2 linked regions of the Homo sapiens genome follow. The main gene of each other region encodes a partner of the protein of the gene in region 2 in a complex. Each region holds a gene or a part of one and is shown on either strand. Other genes may lie near its edges.

Evidence for each region. The genes of interacting proteins can lie anywhere in the genome.
Region 1: VPS72 (region 2) and MORF4L1 share a complex: the UniProt entries of both Homo sapiens proteins name them as parts of the nuA4 histone acetyltransferase complex.

What each region holds. Positions count from the first base shown.
Region 1 is NC_000015.10:78,882,103-78,890,556, forward strand, and holds part of MORF4L1 (mortality factor 4-like protein 1), read left to right. Parts: intron 1-2,864; coding exon of another isoform or gene 2,865-2,981; intron 2,982-4,038; coding exon 4,039-4,125; intron 4,126-5,166; coding exon 5,167-5,247; intron 5,248-8,454. UniProt on the Homo sapiens protein: Component of the NuA4 histone acetyltransferase (HAT) complex which is involved in transcriptional activation of select genes principally by acetylation of nucleosomal histones H4 and H2A.
Region 2 is NC_000001.11:151,186,764-151,195,427, forward strand, and holds the start of VPS72 (vacuolar protein sorting-associated protein 72 homolog), read right to left. Parts: upstream 3,435-8,664; 5' UTR 3,359-3,434; coding exon 3,242-3,358; intron 1-3,241. UniProt on the Homo sapiens protein: Deposition-and-exchange histone chaperone specific for H2AZ1, specifically chaperones H2AZ1 and deposits it into nucleosomes.

The DNA of each region.
Region 1 (8,454 bases), on a different chromosome or scaffold from region 2:
TGCATAGAAGTGCATCCTGACAACTTGTGGGTATTTTTTTCCCAGTTAATGATAATTAAAGTATTTCTAATCAGTGAGGTGTGGTGGTGTGCACCTGTAGCTACTTGGAAGGCTGAGGCAGGAGGATTACTTGAGCCCAGGAGTTTGGGGCTGCAGTGAGCTATGATGTGCCACTGCACTCTAGCCTGAGTGACAGAGCAAGATCTGGACTCCTTTAAAAAGAAACAACAACATGTATTTCTAATAATGATAGGTAATATTTAATAATGATAGGTAACTCCAACCTCATGGACTTGTATTTTAAATATTGAGAAGTTGGGAAAATAATGGAGAAAACTGTCTTGGTAGAAGTAAACTGTGCTTTTAGTACTAAATGGATTCTAATATCTAGGAAACAGGAAAATAGTGACTCCTAGTGTATCTCATAGCTTTTTATTACTAAACAATGCCTTGCTAAAACTGCATTTCAATCTTTATTAGACTTATATTTTGTGTGTTGATATTCTGACAATATCCAGATAAAGTTGAGAGTGTTAGGAGAATTTCATTTCTCTACAGGAAAGATAACATCTTAATTTTATGCATACTATGAGTGGGAAAGACCATATAGGATATCAAAAAAAAACACAAAGCAAATTTATGGTTTAGGCTTAATCTCCTCCATCTCCTGCATTTTAAAGGAATTGTTTTAGAGCCAGTATGGTGGTGCCTATAGTTTTAGCTTCTTAGGGAGGCTGAGGTTGAGCCCAGGAGTTTGAGGCCAGCCTGGGCAACATAGGTAGACACCCCTCTTATAATTAAGCAAATAAAAATTTTAAAAAAGTGTTTGAGGCTGGGTGTAGTGGCTCATGCCTGTAATCTCAACACTTTGGGAGGCCAAAACGGTTGGATCATTTGAGGTCAGGAGTTCAAGTCCAGCCTGGCCAACATGGTGAAACCCCATCTCTACTAAAAATAAAAAAATTAGCCAGGTGTGGTGGCACACGACTGTAGTCCCAGCTGCTGGGGAGGCTGAGGCAGGAGAATCGCTTGAACCCAGGAGGCGAAGGTTGCAGTGAGCTGAGATTGCACCACTGTATTCTAGCCTAGGCGACAGAGTGAGACTCAGGAAAAAAAAAAAAAAAGCGATTGAACACATAAAAAACTAAGGGAAACTACGACAAGGGAATAGAATAAAGAAGATATTTTTAAAAACCTTAAAAAATTATTTTAGAATTTCACCTTAGTAACTGTGAATACAGCTTTTGTGCTTAGTTCTTTTTCACATATAATAGATAACCCTGTATAAAATTGCACACATAGATGTGTACAGCGCAAAGACTGGATTTTAAGTGGCATTTGTAGCTTGTCACAAGTTGTGAAAATACCAAATGCTTGTATTTTCAGATTTTATTGTTTCGAAAAATAATGGGCATTTTCCTCTTTGGTGTATTGTAGTCCAGTAACTCAAAGAAATGATAGGTTTGTGTAGATTTTTTTGTTCTCAACTAATTTGACACATATTAATTACTGTTGGGGAAAGTTAAGAAAAAATAGCATCAAATATTAGAGATTTGTTACTATCTTTGTAGATGTATTGAGGAATATTAATATATCAGAAATGTCTTTGGTTGACTTGGCATGTAGATAAATATATGCAATGTTGAAAGAATGATCTTAGCTTTAGAAAGTCTTTAAAGAAACCTTTAAATTCATTTTGAAAGGGGGAGGAGTTATTCAGATACCTAGTGTGTTGTGTATTTAGTCTATGTAAGTACTGCCCATGGATCATTGTGACTCTGGGAATTAGTCACATTACCGTTAGAAAACTATGAAATTCTGGGCCAGGCGCGGTGGCTCACACCTGTAATCCCAGCACTTTGGGAGGCCGAGGCGGGCAGATCACAAGGTCAGGAGTTCTAGACCAGCCTGGCCAACATGATGAAATCCCGTCTCTAGTAAAAATACAAAAATTAGCCAGGTGTGGTGGTTCATGCCTGTAATCCCAGCTAGTTTGTAGGCTGAGGCAGGAGAACTGCTTGAACCTGGGAGGCAGAGGTTGCAGTGAGCCGAGATCGTGCCACTGCACTCCAGCCTGGGCGACAGAGCAAGACTCCATCTCAAAAAAAAAAACAAAAAGCTGAAATTCTTGCCAGGCGCGATGGCTCATGCCTGTAATCCCAGCACTTTGGGAGGCCTAGGCAGGTGGATCACGAGGTCAGGAGTTCAAAACCAGCCTGGCCATGGTGGTGAAACTCTGTCTCTACTAAAAATTAGCTGGGTGTAGTGGCGCGCACCTGTAGTCCCAGCATTTTGGGAAGCCGAGGGTGGGCGGATCACCTGAGGCTAGGAGTTCGAGACAAGCCTGACCAACATGGAGAAACCCTGTCTGTACTAAAAATACAAAATTAGCTGGGCGTGGTGGCGCATGCCTGTAATCCCAATTACTCAGGAGGCTGAGGCAGGAGAATCGCTAGAACCCAGGAGGCAGAGGTTGTGGTGAGCCAAGATCACGCCATTGCACTCCAGCCAGGGCAACGAGAGCGCAACTCTGTCTCAAAAAAAAAAAAAAAAAAAATACACACACACACACACACACACACACAAATATCTCAAAAATAATCTCATTTTGAAAATGGCTTGTGCAGGGTACTTTTTAAAATTCGTACAACAAAACCTTAATCCCTAAATTGGAATTCTCTTAAACTTCAGTTAATCTTTTTTCAAAAACATAATAGATGATGGAGATTTCTAAATTTTCAAACCTCATTGGAATTTGTTGACACACACTTAAATACTCCATTTGTAAATGAATCTTAATAAAGCTGAGGCTCAATTCTGCACCTGGTCACTGAGATTACTTTGTACTATGCTGTCTGTATCAGAAGTGCTGTGAGGCCCAGGCGCTCTGAAAAATCTTTGAAGACACATGAGGATATTGTAGCCCTTTTTCCTGTTCCTGAAGGAGCTCCCTCAGTACACCACCCCCTCCTGACCTCTAGGTAAATGCATGTTTTGAAATTTTCTCTAGGAAATCATGTTCAGGATTGCTTTTTATTATTTTCCTCTTGGCTGTATTATATAAGAGGTCAGAGGTGGGAAATCATTAAACAAAAGAAAGTCTTAAATTTTTTTTTGTAATTGGGTGCCTTGAGAGTACACCTAATTGTGTCACTAAAGGAGCTCCATCAGCAGGAGAAAAGATTTACTGCTCAAAAAAAGTTAGCATTCCCTAAGAAATTACATTGTTTTTGTTTGCCATTTTGGGGGAAAAAACACATAATCAGAAATTGTGTTTTGAACAAGCTCTTTGAAGTGCCAGAATGTCTTAACATTTTTGAGAGAGTTGGTTCTGCCTTCTAATATTTAGAAAGCCAGCTTTCTGATCAGCCTTGAAAGTTATTAGTGTGTATTCATTTGTGACTGAATGAAGGTGGAGAATGGTGTCAAATCATTTTAATACTTTACAAACTTAAGTTAGTCTAGTTGGTGTTTGAGTATTGTAGACTTCCTAATATGTTTCTGACATACCTTTAGTGTTGTTTTGTGTCAGGGATTCTCAGGTGTTTTACATGTATTCTCATAACAGTTATTTGAGATAAGTACTGTTGTTATCCTCATTTCATAGAGAATGAAATGAAAACACAAAGCTATATGGAACTTTGTCATTACACACAGCTGGTTTTAATTTTTAAAAATAACTGAGTTTTTGACTCCTGTGCTTTATTTTTGACAATAAAAGTCTTTAAGATAACATAAGACTAATCACTTAGTGAATCTTACATTAAGTGCCAAACTCTTAAGCCATTTCTAAAAATGATTTGAATAATCTGCTTTTGGACTCTGGCAGCTTAGATTTGGAATGCTGCTTTTTGAAAATAAAAAGTTTTCCTTTTTACAGAACAGACTTCCATTAGATCTTCATTTTAGTTGAGAATATATTTGTAGTGCCAGTTCATCAAATTACTTAAGAGAAATCCAGTCTTGCCTCTTGATCTCAGAAAATTAGTTGGAGAACAGAGTATTTTTGAGTTAAATTTTAACTTTCCTCTTTTTCAGTTGGGATGAATGGGTTCCGGAGAGCAGAGTACTCAAATACGTGGACACCAATTTGCAGAAACAGCGAGAACTTCAAAAAGCCAATCAGTAAGTTTGTTTTGTGAACTGAATATTAAGGAGAAATGCCTGTAGATTAATTCTGGACATGGAATGAACAATGGAGATCATGTTGGCTGCCCTGCCTATAAAATGATTCCTGGTACCTTTCAGCTGCTGTGTTACAGCTTTGACTTCAAGCGATCAAGCCATATCTAGGTAAAGGAAGTAGCATACCTGCCATTACTTGAGCTTATCTTAGACCTAGGTAGAAAACAGCAGAATGTTGTTGGAAATTGCTATAGGTATGAACTCACTGATAAAAATCTTTATTTTCGGGGGCTCTGGAAGACAAATTTGGTGGGGAAACAAGCAAACGAGGCATTTCCTATTCTGCTTTTCATCTCTGAAAGCACGGGAAAAGGGACCCTGAAAGACTCTATGATTTATAGGGTAATCTCAAAGTTGAAATGTATTTTTAAAAAAATTAAAACGATGGCTGGGCGCAGTGGCTCACGCCTGTAATCCCAGCATTTTGGGAGGCCAAGGCGGGTGGATCACGAGGTCAGGAGATCAAGACCATCCTGGCTAACACGGTGAAACCCCGTCTCTACTAAAAATTCAAAAAATTAGCCGGGCATGGTGGCGGGCGCCTGTAGTCCCAGCTACTCCGGAGGCTGAGGCAGGAGAATGGCGTGAACCCGGGAGGCAGAGCTTTCAGTGAGCGGAGATCGCGCCACTGCAGTGTAGCCTGGGCAGCACAGTGAAACTCTGTCTCAAAAAAAAAAAAAAAAAGAATTAAAATGGTAATGGGAACAAATAAAACACTGGGATTAGTGAATTCCAAAACAAATGGAATTTTCAATGCTATGAGAACAGTCTATTACAGTCACTTTTTATTACATTGATTTTAATTGAGCCTTTTGCTGTTTCTTGAGTGTTTTGTTTGATTTTTGTGGAAATATCTCTGTCCAACTTGTTAAAAACTTGTTGCCAGAATTTGAATGTAAATTCCTAATGGAATCAGGCTGACAATTTTTTTTTCACATAAATGCTCATTTTATGTTGACATTACTGAAATTATTTTTGAAGGGAGCAGTATGCAGAGGGGAAGATGAGAGGGGCTGCCCCAGGAAAGAAGACATCTGGTCTGCAACAGAAAAATGTTGAAGTGTAAGAAGCTCTTTGTTTTGATTTTGCATACTATATGTGAAGATAATATTTTATGTTCATTGTGTGTTAGACTGTGTTGAAGTGGAAACTTTGGAACATTGTTGGAACCAGTAAGAATCCCATTCCTCAGGTATCAGGTCGTTAAAGTAGTTTAAAATAACGTATTCCTTAATTTTCCTCAGCAGGTTCCCCCTCCCTTTAACTTGTGTGTATAAATATATGTGTGTGATGTTTTCTCTTACAAAGATAGTACTAGTGGTTATAAGTTTTGAGATAACTTTTGGCAAGCCTTTTCAAACCTAAAAAGCAAGTGCTGGCAAGTGCTAAAAATACATACGAATTAACCTCCACTTTGGTGAAACTCATGGTAAGAATATGTGAGAAGTTAAGGTTTCAAATAACTGCCCTCCTCATCCCCACCCCTAAGAAAACCATTGCTTTTTTTTGAGACAGAGTTTCCCTCTTGTTGCCCAGGCTGGAGTGCAGTGGTGTGATCTGTGCTCACTGCAACCTCTGCCTCCTGGGTTCAAGTGATTCTCCTGCCTCAGCCTCCCAAGTAGCGGGGATTACAGGCGTGTGCCACCACGCCTGGCTGATTTTTGTATTTTTAGTAGAGATGGAGTTTCACCATGTTGGTCAGGCTGACCTCCTGACCTCAGGTGATCCACCTGCCTTGGCCTCCCAGAGTGCTGGGATTATAGGCGTGAGCCACTGCTCCTGGCACAAAACCATTACTTCTTGTTAACTCTAGATTTTAGAACATCTGATAAGAAGCCTAGAGTGAGAAAGTCATGTGCATGCATACATTTTGTATGTTTAAAGTTTATGTAGGACGGTGCGGTGGCTCACACCTGTAATCCCCCTACTTTGTTTGGGAGGCTGAGGCAGGAGAATGGTTTGAGCCCAGGAGTTTGAGACCAACTTGGGCAACATCGGGAGCCTCTGGTTCTACAGAAAAATAAAAAAATTAGCTCGGGGGTGGTGGCACATGCTTGTAGTCCCACCTATTCAGGAGGCCGATGTGGGAGGGTCACTTGAGCCCAGGAGGTCAAGGCTGCACTTTAGTCTTGGCGACTGAGTGAGATCCTGTCTTTTAAAAAGAAAAAAAAAAAAGTTGATGTACCTGAAAGTGGATGACAAGAGTGGTAACTTAATAAGTATTCTTAAGTATTTGTAATAATAAAAACAAAAATTATAACTTTTATTAAGAGGTCATTTTATTTCCTACCAGAATTACTGATCTGATTTTTCTACTTAAAAGTAAGGTGTTACACCCAGTGCTTTGGGAGGCTGAGGTGGGAGGGATTGCTTGAGGCCAGGAGTTCTAGGCTGCAGTGATCTGTGATTGCACCACTGCGCTCCAGCCTCTTAAAAAAAGTAAGGTGTTACTAATGAAGGTATTTAGTATTTAATGCATTTGGAGATGTTTGAAGCTTTTTATTTTTTTTTAAACTCTTTTTGGTGAGAAGATAATTGGCAAGGATTAAGTGTGTTACTATTTGAGGATTGTTCATAGTTTTAATAAGTGGTAACATGTTTTCATGATCTGGTTCTTTGGAAAACTGTAGTGTAGTATTTCATTAGGATTTAATAGTAATTATGTCTTAAAAGGCAGTAATTTTCTCTATATAGAAAAGATTTTTATCAAAAGTAATAGTTCATAACTAATTCTTTATCACTGTGCTAAGTTATTATATAGAAATCTTAAGTGGTAGTATGCCCATAAGTTATTTGCATTTGAATACAGCATTGTGCAGTCTCCACTACAAAAATAATGGCTGAGTAAATATATGAAGTAAAGCTTTAAAATTTAAATTTCCCATTCTTGAACAGTAGAAGCCTCTTCAAACTGGCTTCTGAGTCTTTTGAAGGATCCTCAGTCTAGACGTTTGAAGCATGAATGTCAAGCTCTTACTACTAGGACTTATTGAAGTGTATGGGTTGAATATCCCTTATCTGAAGTGTTTCGGACCAGAAGCGTTTCAGATTCCAGACTTTTTTTGGATTTTGAAATGTTTGCGTTATACTTACCTGTTGAACATCCCAAATCCAAAATGCTTCAATGAGCATTTCCTTTGAATGTCATGTTGGCTCAGAAAATTGGGATTTTTGGAGCATTTTGGCTTTGGGATGCTGAACTCATCTATATTTTATAGATCTTTTACTTTAGAGTTGAGATCACCTGTCAGTATTTTAGTTTTATATTACAGAGGTGAGTGGGTAAAGGATTGAGTGTGAAGACTATTGGTTTCTCTTGGTCTCCACATATTGACACGTGCAAGTAAAGTTCATGGTTGACTTTGACCGAGAAATACAGTCCAACAGATTTTTACAAAACTAACAGACAAGAGAAAACCTATACACAGATTTTTGTGTTTATATCCAAACATAAGTTAATTTGAATTGTCAAACCTTAAGACCTAAATTAAATGAATATATTTAATTAATAACATTTATAAGTATTATTTAAAGCTACAGAAAAGTAAAAAATCCAGGTGTTATAGTATCTTTCCATCGAAAGTAATCCATAATCATGGGCTCTATAAACTGTTTCCTTTGTGGTCTAGAAATAATAATGTAAAAAAGCAAAATTAGGCCAGGCATGGTGGCACACGCCTGTAATAGCATTTTGGAAGGCCGAGGTATGCGAATCACTTGAGGTCAGGAGTTTGAGACCAGCCTGGCCAACATGGTGAAATCCCGTCTCTTAAAATACAAAAATGAGCTGGGAGTGGTGGTGGGTGCCTATGGTCCCAGCTACTTGGAAGGCTGAGGCAGGAGAATCGCTTGAACCCGGGAGGAGGAGGTTGCAGTGAGCCGAGATCACCCAACAGACAGAGCAAGACTCCATCTCAAAATAAATAAATAAAGCAAAATTAGCAATTTACCATTTGACAGTATATAAGTGACGTGAGGTAAGTTGCTGTTAGAGATGATAATCAAGATGAGGAGACTTAAAACAAAAAAATTACACAAATCTAAAAATATTTTGGGGAACAAAAATAATTGGAAAAAAATTTTAACCTTTGACACCTTTTTTTTTTGGTGGGCCTAATAATGTAGTATATACTATAACATATATTAATATAACCCTGGAAGAACGAAGTTGTTTACTAAAGTGTTCTTGGTTTGCTTTTCTTTTTTTTTTGTCTTTGAGACAGGGTCTCTGTCACCAAGACTGGAGTGCAGTGGTGCAATCAAGGCTCA
Region 2 (8,664 bases):
GCCAACTGCATTTGGCTCCAGCACTGCCTCCTTCCAACACTGATTGCACTGTAGGACTGTATGATTTGAAAAGAAGGTTGCATTCCATTTATGGAGAAACTTAAATGTCACACTAATAAACACGCTTTTAACCTGCAGGCCAGTGATTCTCAATCCCCTCCATCTCCTTATTTTCCCTACCATTGATAATCATTGTTGAGGTAAACTAAAGTTACTGAGAGAAATATGTGTCATTCCTCAGGCGTGTTGGGACAGAAAAACAGCTGAGTACTGCTACTATGGATAATGGAGGGCCACTGAAGATTTAGGGGAGGGGTAATGGTATGTACAATGGGTATTTCAGAAAGCTCTGGGGGCAGTTAGATGGCCTGGAGTAGAGAACGTGAAGTACAGCCTAGACCTCAGGTGAACTGGTTAGGGCTAGAATGGCAGCCATATTATAAAGAAAAGGGAAAAAAGCCACTTGAGGGAGAGGGAGTCAACTGGGCTGGCTGACACCTCACATATGTGGTTCTCTCTTCAATCAGTGATGCAGACTAATGGGCTAATCTTGGTACACATGATGCCAAAGCAAGCAAATAACACAGATGGCTGACACTCCAAGCCAGCCAGAGTTCAATTTTGCACTGATGACCATCATTTCCTCCTAACTGATGTTTGTAAAAGACAGCCTGGGAACACATTAATCCCCTCAGCTTTAATCTGGTATTAAGCCATATCACCAGAGGGTAGTAGATCAACCACACATTAGCTTAGTGCCCAATCAACATACTTGCACTAAATTAAGGATTTACTACCATTCCTTCGGCTTTTATTGAGAGTCATTAAGAGACATCACTAGAAAAGAGAATGTTTGTATATCATCTATGAAAACCATTACTTTTTATAATATAAGGATATAATGATAAATGCTCCCTAGGATTTAAGGCTGAAAAAGTTTGTGTCTCTTGAAGAACTTGTATGCTTCTTTCTTACTAAAAAAAGAAATACAAGGTTTGGCTACCAGGAAGCTCACAACTAAATTTAATATCAATTGCTATTACCATTTTAGCAGAGGTTCCTGGTACAATTACTTCTGATCTGTCTCTATTTTTACTGTTCCTACTTTTTGTTTATATTGTAAGCCTCCTTAAATCCTTTTTGGAAGCATGAAGGGTACATATTAAATAACAAGTCGTAAAATGACAGAAATAGGAAAATGGCCTTAGAGGAGGGATGAGAAAGTTCTATTTTAAACTAGTTGGTTAGGGCTGTGTCAGTAATGACTCTGTCAGTGATGTGGGTTTTTTTTTTTTTTGAGACAGAGTCTCACTCTGTCGCCCAGGCTGGAGGGCAGTGGCGCAATCCACTGCAACCTCTGCCTCCTGGGTTCAAGTGATTCTCCTGCCTCAGCCTCCTAAGTAGCTGGAATTACAGGCACACGCCACCACAACCAGCTAATTTTTTGCATTTTTAGTAGTGACAGGGTTTCACCATGTTGGTCAGGCTGGTCTCGAACTCCTGACCTCGTGATCCACCCGCCTCAGCCTCCCAAAGTGCTGGAATTACAGGCGTGAGCCACCACACCCAGCCCCTAAGTCCTGTGGGTTCTATTCCTTAATTTCTCTTGAATCTTTCTGTTTCTCTACTGCCATGCCCCCTTCAAGCCATTCTCATTACAGAGTAAGTAACCTTCCTAAAGTACAAATTTCATCGTGGAATTCTGATGACTCTTCTCAGTCCTCTGGATGAAGAGCAAAATTCCTTAACATAGCTCACAAGGCCCTAAAGGATCTGGCCCATGCCTACTCCCTGCAGGCTTATCAATCTTTAGTCTCCTTCATGCTCTGGAGAATGAAAGTAGACTTGCAGGTCCTAGACCAGGATCTCAATGTCTTTACATACTCAGCCCATCCTGCTCTGTGGACTAACCTTTCTCCTTCTCCTGCTTTTCATCAAGCTAAGGTCTACTTTTCAAACTGTCCTCAGCTTAAACATCATCCCTCCAGGGATGCCTATCCTGATCAACAACTTTGGTTCAGATGTATTACCTTAACACTCTTACACCTTGTTTTAGTCCTTATCACACATTTTTTGTTTGTTTTTGAGACGGAGTCCTGCTCTGTCGCCCAGGCTGGAGTGCAGTGGTACGATCTCGGCTCACTGCAACCTCCTCCTCCCAGGTTCAAGCGATTCTCTGCCTCAGCCTCCTGAGTAGCTGGGACTATAGGCGCACACCACCACGCTTGGCTAATTTTTGTATTTTAATAGAGACAGGGGGTTTTACCATGTTGGCCAGGATGGTCTCGATTTCCTGACCTTGTGATCCACCCGCCTCGGCCTTCCAAAGTGCTGGGATTACAGGCGTGAGCCACTGTGCCCGGCCAAAGCCACTGTGCTCGGCCTATCACACAGTATTTTAACTGTTAACCCAGGCAGTTACCCCACTGGGGCATGGAGTATGTAAGGACAGAGCACTGTTTTTAATATTCTGTTTCCCTAGAGCCTAAAACAACCTATTACCGATGGCATGCTCTGGGTACTCAACACATTTAATAAACGGGTAGATTCAACTAATAAAAATTTAGCAAGTGGCAGCCCAGTCCGGACACCTCACACATAATGTTGAACAAAACAGACCATCTCTAACTTTATACAGTTTACAATGCAATAGAAAAGCATAAGCAAGTAAGCAAACCAAATCTAATTGCAAATTGAAATATGTTCTGTGGAAGAAATAAATGGGGACACTTGTTAGGATAGTCAAGGAAGGGTTATCTTCCTGAGAAAACATTTACACTGAGACCTGAAAGCTGAAAAAGAAGTGGGCTAAGCTCCTCTACTTTTGGAGCGGTTCCTTTCCATGTCTCAGGTGAATAATCCAGCAGTGGGCCAACGAGTATACATCGAGCAACTGTCTACTACTATGTGTGTGCCTCGTGTATGCTGGACGTCAGAAGTACAGTGAAAGATGCAACCACGCAAGTATACGGTAGGTTTCTGCCGTTCTCTGTTCTCTGGAGTGCCTCCGGAGAGCTTCTCCGTCTCAGGCCCCTTTGACCCCATCCAGAGCTCTCCCTTCTAGGACTCCACACTATCCGTTCCCCCGCCTCGCCCCCCGGCTCCGATTCACCCACCCAACTCGAGTATCAGCTCCCAGAGCTCCTCTCTATTCCCCGCCCTCTTCTTCTTTGTCCGGGGTTTCTCCCTTCAGGGCTCCTCTTTGCCTCCTCCCCTCCCTTTTCCCAGGCCCGGATCTTGCCTCTGTGAAACCCCCATAAGTCGTCTGGTAGAACTCATCTTCCTCCTCTGCCTCCAAAAGCCCAGAAAGCCGGTTCCCAGCGGTCTTCCGGGGTGCCCGGCCCCCAGCCAAACTCATACCGCCTACCGAGACTGCGCCGCCACCTGCAGCCCCTCACCAGCTCGGTTTTGGGAGCTCGACGCTCGACATCACTACCTGCGGGTGGCCACCAGCGGCGGAAGTCGGGCGTTTACAGGCAGAAGTAACAGAGTGTCGAGAGACTCCCAGTCCCACCCTCTAAACCCTCTTTACTCTTCAGCCTCTCCTACTCCTGCGCGGATGCTCTAGGCCGCTTGCTCTAGTACCCAGCGATCTCCCTTGCTCAATGAGTCCACTTGGTGGTACGAAGACCCCCATAACCCTAAGTCAACACATTTTATTTTATTTATTTTTATTTTATATATATATATGGTTTTTTTTTTCCGTAGGGACGGAGTCTCGCCTCGCTCTGTCGCCAGACTGGAGTGCAGTGGCACGATCTCGGCTCACTGCAACCTCCGTCCCCCGGGCTGAAGCGATTCTCCTGCCTCAGTCCCCCGAGTAGCTGGGATTACAGGCGCCCGCCACCATGCCCAACTAATTTTTGTATTTTTAGTAGAGACAGCTTTCACCGTGTTGGCCAGGCTGGTCTCGAACTCCTGACCTCAGGTGATCCGCCCGCTTCGGCCTCCCAAAGTGCTGGGATTACAGGCATAAGCCTGCGCCCCCAGCTCACATTTTCTTTTAGAAGAGGTCATTCTCTCCGCTCCAGTCCATTTTCTACACTGCTGCTAGTAGGAAACTTTCTAAAAACCCACGTTTTGCCACTCCTGTCCTCAAACATTTTTAATGGCTCCACATCATCTACAAGATAAAGTCAAAAATCCTTGAGGAAGGAAGCATAGTATTGTGGTTAAAAACACAGCCATAGACATTTATCCAAAGGAAAGGACATAATTCAACCTGAGGAAGCCAATTTAGGAGGAAAAAAAAAAAGGAAATCAGTATATCCAAGAGACGTCTGCACTCCATATTTATGCACCCCCATATTTATTGCAGCACTACTTAGAGTAGCCAAAATAGGAAATCAATCTCTGTGTCCAACAACAGATGAATAAAGGAAATAGGGTGTATATACACAATGGAATACTTTTCAGCCATTAAAAAGAAGAAAATCCTGTCATTTGCAGCAACATGGATGGAACTGGAGGACATGTTAACTGACTTAAGCCACGAACAGAAAGTTAAAACACTGCATGTTCTCACTCATATGTGACGCTTTTAAAAAGTTGATTTCATAGAAGTGAAAGAACAGAGGATACTGGAGGCTGGGAAGAGCAGGGGGAAGGAAGGGACAGGGAAAGATTTGTTAAAAGACACAAAATTGTGGCTCACACCTGTAATCCCAGCACTTTGGGAGGCCGAAGGGGGTGGATCATGAGGTCAGGAGTTCACGACCAGCCTGGCCAAGATGGCGAAACCCCATCTCTACTAAAAATACAAAAATTAGCTGGTCGTGGTGGTGGGCGCCTGTTATCCCAGATACTCGAGAGGCTGAGGCAGAGAATTGCTTGAACTCGGGAGGCGGAGGTTGCAGTGAGCCGAGATCGCGCCATTTGCTCTCCAGCCTGGGAAACAGAGCAAGACTCCGTCTCAGAAAAAAAAAAAAGACAAAATTGGGCCTGGCACAGTGGCTCACACCTGTAATCCCAGCACTTTGGGAGGCTGAAGCGGGCAGATCCCGAGGTCAAGAGATTGTGACCATCCTGGCCAACATGGTGAAACCCCGTATCTACTACAAATACAAAAATTAGCTGGGTGTGGTGGCGCGCACCTGTAGTCCCAGCTACTAGGGAGGCTGAGGCAGGAGAATCGCTTGAACCCGGGAGGCAGAGGTTGCAGTGAGCTGAGATTGTGCCACTGCACTCCAGCCTGGCAACAGAGCAAGACTCCATCTCAAAAGAAAAAAAAAAAAGACACAAAATTACAATTTTTTTTGAGACAGGGTCTCTATTGCCCAGGCTGGAGTGCAGCAGCAGGATCATGGCTCACTGCCTCCTTGACCTCCTGGGCTCAAGCTGTCCTCCCACCTTGGCTTCCAAAAGTGCTAGGATTACAGCTGTGAGCCACCACACTGGCCCCCAATTACATTTGTTTGTTCGTTTGTTTGTTTGTTTGAGATAGGATCTCACTTTGTCACCCAGGCTGGAATACAGTGATGCAATCACTGCTCACTGCAGTCTCGACCTCCTGGGTTCAAGTGATCATCGCACCTCAGCCTCGTGGGTAGCTGGAACTACAGGCTCGTGTCACCACGCCTGGCTAATTTTTTGTACTTTTTGTGGAGATGAGATTTCATCATGTTGCCCACGGTGATCACCTGAGCTCAAGTGATCCCCACTCCTCAGCCTCTCAATGTGCTGGGATTACAGGTGTGAGCCACCTCGCTTGGCCCCAAATTACATTTAGATAGGAGGAATAAATTCTAGTGTTCTTGGCCGGGTGTGGTGGCTCACACCTGTAATCCCAAAACTTTGGGAGGCTGAAGTGGGCAGATCACCTTAGATCAGGAGTTTGAGACTAGCCTGGCCAACATGGCGAAACCCCATCTCTACTAAAAATACAAAAATTAGCCGAGCACGTTGGCGGGTGCCTGTAATCCCACCTACTAGGAGGCAGAGGCAGGAGAATCACTTGAACCCCGGAGGCGGAGGTTGCAGTGAACCAAGATCGCACCATTGCACTCTAGCCTGGGCAACAAGAGTGAGACTCCATCTCAAAAAAAAAAAAAAAAATTCTAGTGTTCTATATCACTGGGGGATAACTATGATTAACAATAATATTTTCAAATAGCTAGAAGAAGGATATTGAATGTTTGTGCTGGAGACAAATAAATTATATATTTGTGAGGCCAGGCACGGTGGCTCACGCCTGTAATCCCAGCACTTTGGGAGGTTAAGGTGGGCAGATTATTTGAGGTCGGTAGTTCAAGACAAGCCTGACTGACATGGTGAAACCTTGTCTTTACTAAAAAGTACGCAAATTGGCCAGGAGTGGTGGCAGGTGCCTGTAGTTCCAGCTACTTAGGAGGCTGAGACATGAGAATCACTTGAAACCGGGAGGTGGAGGTTGTAGTGAGCCAACGTCGTGCCACTGCACTCCAGCTTGGATGACAGAGCGAGACACCATCTCAAAATAAATAAATAAATAAATGATACATTTTTTAGATGACAGATATACTAATTATCCTGATCTGATCACTAAACATTTTATGTATTGAAACATCACTATGTGCCCCATAAATATGTACAATTATGTGCCAATTAAAAATTAAAATAAAATAAAACAACAACAAAAAGAGAACACAGCTTTAGAGCCAGCCAGACCTGAATTTGAGTGTGAACTTTAAGGTCTTTTAGCTGTATGACTTTGGACAAGTTGCTTTACTTCTCTGAATCTCAGTTTTCTCATCTGCAAAGTGGGACTGATAATAATACCTATCTTTTAAGGTCGTAGAAGATTAAGAGATATAATTATTGGCCAGGTGCCATGGCTCACGCCTATAATCCCAGTACTTTGGGAGGCCGAGGCGGGTAGATCACAAGGTCAGTAGTTCGAGACCAGCGTGGCCAGTATGGTGAAACCCCATCTCTACTGAAAATATAAAAATTACCCAGGCATGGTGGCGGGTGCCTGTAGTCCCAGCTAGTCGAGAGGCTGAGGCAGGAGAATAGCTTGAACCCAGGAGACGGAGGTTGCAGTGAGCCAAGATAGCACCACTGCACTCCAGCCCGGGCGACAGAGCCACATTCTGTCTCAAAAAAAAAAAAAAAAAAAAAAAAAGACAGAGAGAGATAATTCTTGTCAACTGCTTAGCACAGTGTTTAGTAAGTGCATAGTAAATGTGTAGTAGGTGGTAACTACTACATGGCATTCAGTATTCAGATCCTTCATAATTTAGCCTCTCCCTGTCCTTCTAGTCACACCTCCTGCGACATCACTACTCCAGCATCTCTCCCCTAACACCCAATTCTCTGTCATGCCTCTATGCCTTTCTTTCTCCTTAGAATCCCTTTCCTTTCTTTTCTAATTTTATGGGAGAGTGGAGTCTTCCTGAACACCCATTCCTCTCTTTCCAGGCACAATTCATATAACTATGGAGATGATGTCTTCTGTAGTCTCTGGAATAGTTCCAATCTCAAATATTGTCTGTTGTAAAGACTGTTCTCATTTTTTATTCTGAAAATATGGTTATCAAACCATAGCACTTACACAAACTTTATGATGGCACCTATTACATTGTATTCTAATGATTCACATGTCTGTTCCCCTCATTAGTCTGTGATCTTTTTGAGGGCAGGGGCTTAATCTTTTCCTTTTTTTAATTAAAAAAAATTGTTTTGGAGACATGGTTTTGCTCTGTCGCCCAGGCTGGAGAGTAGTGGTGCAATTTTAGCTTACTGCAGCCTTGACCTCCTGGGCTCAAGTGATCCACCCATCTCAGTTTCCTTAGTAGCTGTGACTACAGGTGCGCACCACCACGCTCAGCGAATTTTTGTATTTTTTGTAGAGATAGGATTTTTGCCATGTTGCCCAGGCTAGTCTTGAACCCCTGGGCTCAAGCAATCTGCCTGCCTCAGCTCCCAAAGTGTTGGGATTACAGGAGTGAGCCATCCTGCCTGATGATGGGCTTAATGGTCATCTGTGTATTCCAGGAACTCTAATAGTGCCTGGGACGTAGCTTGGGCTAAATAATGTTAATTGAGTGAATTAATTAATGAATGATTAATTGAATAAATAGCCCATCCTCTTATTGTAGAATCCTTTCCTTGCTCTTGCCAGTCCCCATCACTTCATTCTAATCTTAGAAACTTTTCTGGCCGGGCGCAGTAGCTCATACCTGTAATCCCAGCACTTAGGGAGGCCGAGGCAGGCAGATCACGAGGTCAAGAGATCGAGACCATCCTGGCTAACACAGTGAAACCCTGTCTCTACTAAAGATACAAAAAATTAGCCGGACGTGGTGGTTTGTGCCTGTAATCCCAGCTACTTGGGAGGCTGATGCAGGAGAATCGCTTGAACCCGGGAGGCGGAAGTTGCAGCGAGCCAAGATCGCGCCACTGCACTCTAGCCTGGGCGACAGAGGGAGACTCTGTCTCAAAAAAAAAACAATAATAAAATAAATAAATAAATAAAATAAAGAAACTGTTCTAAGATATGAATGACACTTTAATAAAGGTGTGGGTGTGTACTCACATGTACTGAAGTCTGTACCTGTGGCCCTACTTTGAGGTCATCAGATTGTACCCCCTTTCCCAAAGTATGTATTGGTGAACTCCCTTTTCTGTTTCCTTGGGGCACTAAGCCAACATGTCCTGCTCTGCCCCTGTTTCCACACCCTGCCA